Linked DNA regions of Homo sapiens. Changing the gene in region 2 together with the main gene of any one other region gives a genetic interaction. Each region holds a gene or a part of one and is shown on either strand. Other genes may lie near its edges.

The links. Genes that interact genetically often act in the same process or in processes that back each other up.
Region 1: changes in REV3L (region 2) and GPR27 impair growth when combined (synthetic growth defect), as found in Homo sapiens cells (one large-scale study listed by BioGRID).

What each region holds. Positions count from the first base shown.
Region 1 is NC_000003.12:71,752,691-71,756,654, reverse strand, and holds GPR27 (probable G-protein coupled receptor 27), read right to left. Parts: upstream 2,801-3,964; 5' UTR 2,606-2,800; coding exon 1,478-2,605; 3' UTR 159-1,477; downstream 1-158. UniProt on the Homo sapiens protein: Orphan receptor. Possible candidate for amine-like G-protein coupled receptor.
Region 2 is NC_000006.12:111,480,419-111,484,517, forward strand, and holds the start of REV3L (DNA polymerase zeta catalytic subunit), read right to left. Parts: upstream 2,801-4,099; 5' UTR 2,471-2,800; coding exon 2,332-2,470; intron 2,194-2,331; exon of another isoform or gene 1-2,193. UniProt on the Homo sapiens protein: Catalytic subunit of the DNA polymerase zeta complex, an error-prone polymerase specialized in translesion DNA synthesis (TLS). Lacks an intrinsic 3'-5' exonuclease activity and thus has no proofreading function.

The sequences.
Region 1 (3,964 bases), on a different chromosome or scaffold from region 2:
CTGATGGTCAAACTATGAAACCTGTAACTGAAGAACACGTGCTAAAAGGATCATAGAGCATGTTATCCTTACATAACATACTTAGAGGCATGTAACATACTTCGACGCATGTATTATTACAGCCTCAAACACCACCACCACCACAACAAAACAACCACTCCAGAATGAAAATACTGGTATATTTGTATAATGCAAAGAGAAATACAGATATAAATCCTCAAAACGGAAGGTACATTAATAAAAATGTAGCATTATAAGCCAAAAATATTATATAGTACTTGCAGAATTTAGTCTTTCAGTTTAACATTATAATGTCTAACAAAGAAATATTATTTAAATTATAGTTCTCATTATTAATTTAAAACAACCATCAGTAGAACAGCACAGCTTAACCTAGCAAACATTTTAAGGAAATGCTTTGTTTCCTAGAAGGAGGATATCATTATATTCCATTCATTTATACCATAAACAACAGAAGAACAATTTTCAAAGTGGAAATTAGTTTCATAAGACAGAATAAAACTGGGCTTCTCAAAGCACAAGCCATTTCCATAAAATTAATTTTTTATTGGCAAAAAATACTTAAAACAATTTTGATGTAGTACTCTGCTTCTCAGAGCCCTCCCAATCCTCGAACCACAATCTATACACACGAACACATGCAATACTGTATTTTTCTCCACATCATTACTAACCAAAACACTTTACTCTTTTAAAACTTACAACTTGACAGAAATGTTTCCATTCAAGATTGCTATAATACAGAGAGCAGTTGTCACTGACGTGGTTTTTAGCAGCAGAAAGTAAACCGGGAACCAAATCTTACTTGTTACTTACTGCTTTAAAAAAATGACTGCCTTGCTACTGATCTCCATCTCTGCTCTTTAAGTTCAATATCAACACTGAGACTTTCAAAGAACCAGCGCAGCACAAGGACCCTGCAGCCGGCAATTCAGAGGGCATTTCGGACAACTTCCCCCCACCCCCCACTTTCTCCTGCTTCCAACAGAAGATCCTCAAGAAATCTAACTTGTGAAGAAGTCCCCCTAGGTTCCTCTACTTCACTGCAAAATGTAATGCCACTTGAGGTTGTCAAAAATAGCTTCTGTAGAAAACTGGCCATGGTCTTTAGGAAACGTTGCATGAAGAAAATTAGTACAGCCTTTATAGAAAAAGAAAAAAAGGAACCACACATGGAATAAAAGACGTCAGTACCGCTACAAAAAGACTGCAGGGCCTATTGTCAGGAAGAAAGTCGAGTTAGGAGGACGAATGTGCGGAGCTGGAGTGGGCTGAGCATCCTACTCCTCACCCACCCCACCCCCAAAGGAGTCAGTACAATCCAAGTGTCTGTCCACTTCGAGTCATTTTGAAGGCAGCTTAGAAAATTAAACAGGGGCCAGAAGGAAAAGATACAACGTCACCGTCCGAGCCAAAGGGAAAGGCTGGGTTGGGGGTCTATGTGGCGGGGCCTCCCTCATAAACCAATGCCTTTCAGGTCGCAGGGATGGGTCGCCTGGGTGGTCCGGGGGCTCTGGCAGCAGGGGAACTGGGCCCTGAAGCAGTCCCTCAGCTCCCTGTTGAAGAGGAAGCACACGACGGGGTTGATGCCGGCCTGCGCGAAGGTCAGCCACACGGAGGCCGTCAGGTAGGCCTGGGGGACGGCGCCGGGCCGCACCAGGACCCGCAGGTAGCTGGCCACGACGTAGGGCCCCCAGAGGAGCAGGAAGAGCAGCGTGACGGCGTAGAACATCTTGCACAGCCTCTTCTCCGTCTTGAATTCTTCCAGCACGAGGAGGCGGCGCGCGCCGCGGCCCGGCCCTGCGGGCCGGATGCCCACAAGCGCGGGCGGCGTGGGCCCGCGGCCGAAGCCCGCCGTCCAGTTGGCGGCCGCCTGGCCGGTGGCGCCCGGGCCGTGGAAGGTCCAGTCGTGGCTGACGGCGGGCACCAGGCGCGCGGGCCGCATCTTGCGGCGGTCGTGGATGAAGAAGAGCAGGCGGAGGTAGACGAGGTGCGTGGCGCCCACCACCACGGCCAGCAGCAGCAGGAAGCCCAGCGCGCCGGGGGCGCCGTCGGGCCGCTGCTCCAGGGCGCACGGCGCGTCCTCGTCGTCGCCACCGCCGTCCAGCACTGGCGGGAAGGCCGCGGCCAGCGCCAGCGCCCAGGCGGCGCACACCAGCATGGCGGCGCACGGCCAGCCGGCCAGGCGCTCTGCATAGAAGCGGTGGTGCGCGATGGCCAGGTAGCGGGTGACGCCCACGCCCAGCAGCAGGAAGGCGGCGTGGAAGCAGAAGAGCGCGGCCAGGAAGGCGAGCAGCTTGCAGCCCAGCGCGCCCGGCGGCGCCCCCGCCGCGGCCGCCGCACGCCGCGCCGCCAGCATGACGGCCGGGAGGCAGGCGAGCGCGCGCAGCCCGTCGGCCAGGCACAGGTCGAGCAGCAGGTAGTACGGGGCGCGGTGCAGGCTGCGCTCCCGCACGATCAGCAGCGCGAACAGCACGTTGCCCGCTAGGCTCACGCACAGCAGCAGGCTGAGCGTGGCCAGCTTGAGGCCCAGGGCGGCCGCCTCGCCGCCGCCGCTGCCACCCGGCTCGCTCGCGTTCGCCATCGCGGCCTCACCAGGCCGTGCGCTCCGCCCCGGGGCCGTCCCCTGCCTCGCCGCTCCCGCAGGCCGCCCGGCCCGAGCTCCGCCGCTCCGCCGGCCCTGGGCGAGCTCCCCGTCCTGCGGGGCTCAGCCCGCTCCCGGCCGGCCCCTCCTGGGCTCCCCGAGCCGCCGCTGTGCCGCCGCCGCCATCTCAGGAATGGTGCGCGCAGGAGGAGGCGGCCACTCCCTGCGCCCTAGGCGCCGCGGGCTTCACTGCGGACAGGGCCTCGCCACCGTCCGCAGCCCCCCGCATCCTCCTCCGTCTCCTCCTACTCCTCCGCTGCTGCCGCCGCGCCTCTTGGCTCTGCCCCCCGCCGGGCCCGCCGCCGCCGCTGCCGCCGCTGCCGCCGCCGCCGCCGCCGCCGCGGAGCCCCCTCCCCTCCGCCGGAGCGCGCAGCGCGGCCGCCGCCGCCAGCCCCGCCGAGGCATCCCGCACCGCCTGGGCCCGGCTGGGCTGGGGGCGCCTCCGCAGCAGCCGCGGGGTCGGGAGGCGGCCGGGAGGGAGGCAGGGCCCAGGACGCAAGGTGGCGACAAGTCGCGTTTGGCCCCAGGTAACGGGGGTCCGGCGGCGGCGCCCGCGCTGGGGTCACGGTGGCCGTGCGCGGGGGAGGTTGCCTGGGCTGGCAGGGTCGGGAGGCCTCAGAGGGGACAGGAATATCTGGAATGAGCCTTCTGCCCGAAAGCTGGGAGTAATTTACGATAGTAATAGTCATCGTAATCCTAAAACCGCTGATACTCAGGTGCGCACTGATGTGGGTGGCAGTGTGCTGGGGAGCTTGGCAAGCATTATCTCCCTCAACAGTAATCACGAAGTTGTTGCCATCCTTAATCCCACTTTATACCTCAGGAAGCAGAGGCTTGGAGGTCAAGGGAGTTGAGAGCCGGGAAGTAGCGGAGCTGGGATTCAAATTTCGCTTGGTCTGATTTCCAGTGCTGGACTCACAGCGACTCCGCAGCATCCCCTGCTCGCTAACTCATCCGTGATCCCGGTGAAGGACCTATATCAGGGAAAAGAAATGCAGCATTTCATCTTTAAGTGACTTGGAAGGTGAACCCTATGCCACCTTCCTCCCAGGATATCTATTTTCTGGGTAAGCCTGAAAGGGCAGCCCCTGTTATGATTCTCAGACACACCGCATTTGTCTCGCAGGACCTTGCATGTGCTGGTACCTCTGCCTGGACCAGCCCCACAACAGGCTCCCTCTCCGTAGGGCCTCCTTCTAACCCGTCTGTTTTACTCTGTATCCCTGCCCTCTAGTCATTTCCTTCTTAGCACTTATAATTTGTCATTATATACTTTCATTTCTTTTTAAAAATCATGCT
Region 2 (4,099 bases):
TTAATAATTTTCAAGTTTTATTTTATTGGACTAGTTTTCCTTGGGGAGATAATTCAAAAGCAGGTAATTCTGCAGTTTTTGATTATGTTTAATTAATATTAATCTCACTGGGAGTTTCTGACGTGCTAATAAAAATGCTGGCTTGGTTTATGAAAAGTGTAAACTCTAAATGTATGCCAATGACTTCAAATTTTTTCTTGTTGAAACAAACATTTTGTTGGAAACTGTGAACTACATGGCAAATTCAATTTGATAATCCTTAACAATTTAAAATTTGACTTTCTCTGTATCAAGTTTTATGTCTTTCAATGTACATATAAAAAGTGTTACTTTTTAATTCATTTAAAATATAAATTTCAAAGTATGTACCAAAAAAAAAACCCCAATGGGGGTTTTTAGTCTTTGGTTTTTTCGTTTTTGTTTTTTTTTTTTTTTTTAAGGTGCTGGTAATCTATTGTGGGATGTCCATGAAGGATTAAATAGGAAATAGTTAATGTGTCTTTTAAAAAATATTCAGGAAAACAACAGTATATAATATTCTTTATTTTTTAAGGAACATTTCCTCACGTAATAGAATTACATTAGCTTACAGTGAAACTCATTTATTTCCACAAACGAAACTTTCCTATACAACAAAGCTTGACTATCTCTCAGGAAAACATATTTAATGACTTGTGTGGAGGAGAAAAAATTATGTGTGGAAAAGTAACTCAAACCATACAAGCTGTAATACACAGAAATGCCACAGTATATCCTATTAGCATGTCACTTTATGATTCGGAAATTTGGCTGAACAGGGCCATATCAACTTCACTATTTTATCCTTCCTCTGCATCTGAAGTGAGAACAGTGCATTACACTGAAATTCCAATTGGAAACAAAGACAGCACCACTATATTTAAAAGGGCAGAAAACCTATCTTATAGAACACTTCATCGCCTCGATTTCCCAGCCTCCAAAGTTTCAAGTGTTACACTTTCAACACGTTAAAAGCACTCAAATTCCCCATCTTTCAAGGTTCATATCAAAATCATATTCACTAGTTTAAATAGGAATATGCTACCAAATCTCACAACATTGACATTTTAACAAAGAGAATTCACATTAAAAGATAACTGCTTTAAAATGAGTGCTTGTGTTTGGGAAAGCGCTATTATCTTGGTAGTCCACAGAAACTGACTGTAGTAATAAGATGAATGGTGATGAGGGCAAGGAGCATCAAGTGGGAAATGCTATCTAAAATCCCATAGGGCAATTCATAGCTAGAGGGAAGAACAACCTTTCCTAAGATGCATTATTTCCTAGAACTCCATTATTTCATGGAAGCAGTTCAAAGCATGCAAAAAAGCAAAACCATTTTAAAACACCTAGTAAACTGGGCCTCTATCTTTTTTATATTATCATAAGCCCCAGGAGTTTTTGAGAACGTACCTTCTGTCACGGCTGTCTCCCCTTCCCATCCCTTCTTCAACATAGTTGTGTTTAAAAAATATATACCTGTACTTAAAACGCAATCCTACAGCCCAGCCTAGGAGCATTTCAAAATGTCTGTGCTGCTGAGTCTGGCTGTGGTTCCTAATAAATTCACCCCATTAAGTGTGATGTTTTAGGTTGGGCAACATAAACACGCATTTCCTACTTCCATGGATGCACATTTCCTGAAAGCACTGCACCTAAGGATGCTGCCCTGTCCCCCGACGCTCAGGCACTAAACTCTAAGGAGTCACGACCTGCACTCACAGCAGAGCCACACGGTCACCCCAGTGAGAAAGATTATCTGGCCCCAAGCGCCACTCTCTCCGGCCCACTGCATCTCCGGAACTGGCAGAGGAGAGCGAGGGTGAGAAGAGACCATGGGGAGCGACTGACAACAAGGCTGACACTTCCCCGTTTCCAGAAAGCGGCACTTGGGGGACACAAGGGATGTCCCACTAGCGACCGACCTCAGAGCAGGCCCTACGAACCCGTCCACCGATGGACATGGCGCGGCCACCTGGCCCGCCGTCCGGGGCGCCCGCGGCTTTCGCTCTCCCGGCCCGCGCCCTGGAGTGCGGCTCCCGCTCCCGGCCGCCACACGCAGTCTAAACACGCGGCGCTCGCCACCTCCCTGCCCGGGGGTGGGGGCGCCGCGCAGCGCTCGCGCGGACCCACATTTTTGCGGCTCTTGTCACGCACGAGAGAAAAGGCGAGGAGGGCGGAGGGGAGGGAAGACGCGGCAGCGATCCACGGAGACGGCCGGCGCCGGTGGCGTGTGCGCGTGTGCGCGGCGGGGAGGGCGGCCCCGGCGCCCCGCCGACTCCCGCTCCCGCCCCGCGCCCGGCGCCCGCTTACCTGCCGGGGTCGCTCCGAAGACTCGCACCACCGGCACCTTCTTGACAGGGGCCTGGGTGAGGGGGGATTGGCAGGTATCCAGCCCCTGCAGCGGGCTGGCCATGTAGTAGTCTGCAGTCACTATCCTTACTGAAAACATGTTCGCCGCCGCCGCCACTGCCTCCCTTCACTGGCGACCCGGCAGCGGCAGCAGCAGCGGCGGCGGCTCCCTCCGCAGCGGCGGCGGCGCCCCCTCCCCTTCTCGGCACGGCCCCCTCCCCTCACACAGAGGCACCTCGAGGAGCGGCGGGCGGGGCGGTGTAGGCGCTGCTGCCGCCGCCTCCTCAGGAGCACCCGGCAAGGGGCCGCAGGAGAGAAGCCCTCGAGCTTTCGTCGGTGCTGGTGCTGCCGCCACTGCCGCCACCGCCGGGAATCACACGGGCTCCTCGGTCCCAGGCTGCAGCTCTTGTTGCCATGATGATGATGTCACGGACGCAACCACTGGGGGGAGGGGAGAGGGGGGTGTGTGTGGCGAAGGGAGGCTGCGAGTAGTGCGGGGGAGGGGGCTCGGCGGGAAAAGGAGCGAGAGGGCGGGCGCCCGGGCGGGACACGGAGGGCGGGGGCCGAGAAGGGGCTTTCTCCCCCTCCCCGGGCACGCGGCGAGGGAGGCGGCCGGCGGCCGGCAGCGCCCGCGCGGGATCGATGACTCGGCTGGCGGGCACGGTCACCTGGGTGAGGGGCAGCGGAAGGGGCGGCGGAGCACCGATCTCATGGATGGGCTCCGAGGGGCTTGCGGGAGGGGGGCGCCAGTGTTCGGGGCCGTTTTGGCGGCTATGCAGGATTGGCAGGAGCTGCGATGCTCACACTTGCCTCGCCGACCGCCATTTCACATCCAGCAGAGGAGGCGGGGGCAGCCGCTGAGACGGTTTTTCACAAGGTAAGAAAATCCGCCCGCGTGAGGAGGGAGGCGAGGCGCAGATCTCGTGCCGCTGCGGCCTCGCGGGAGGGAAGGGCGGGCGGGCGGCGGAACGGGCGGGGCCGGGTGCGGACGCAGCCGGCCCTTCTCAGGTAACGCCGCGGCTCCGCGCGTGGCCCGGGGGCGGTGCGAAGGGTGGGGGCGCGCGGGCGCGGGCTTCGGCCTATAAAAGGGCCGCCCTGGCGTTCCCCCTTCCCGAACGTGCCGCGCGAGCCGCGGTGCCCCCTCCTCTTTGCTGCTGCAGTGTCTGCGCCGGGCCATTTAATGAGATTTATTCACGCACGGCTCTTCTCAGCTTTGCGAGGGGTTGGCAGATCCAGTGCACAGGGATTTCCCACTACCGTGTTTTTCTCCCGCCCCCTTCCTTCCCTCTCGTCCTAATACATCCTTCGTTGGTTTCCTCGGCCCCGCAGGCTGCGTCCCGGGCACGCGCAAGTACATGTAAGGACTTGTCAGCTGCCGGTGACCTCCCTCCTCCCTCGTCGCTCCTCCCCCAGCGGAATGTAGGATTAACAGTCTTTCCGAGAAAATTTTGGCCAAAGAAAAAGGCCTGTGAAAGTCACCGCGTTAGACGTGGCCTCCTCGTGTTTTTCACTAACACGTTATGGAAGGTTTTACTACCCGAAGGCATAAAAGCACCACCGTGGGGAAGGGCCGTTTTGAATAAACAACTTTATTCAAAAATCGAGAGGGGGTGAAGCGATGCAGTTAGGGAATTTTTGTTTTAAAGAGTAGTAACATGCAGCTGGCTTGGCTATTAAATTGGAAACAAGGGGTTCCTCTCTGACTTGGCCACTGATATTGGGCGTGACC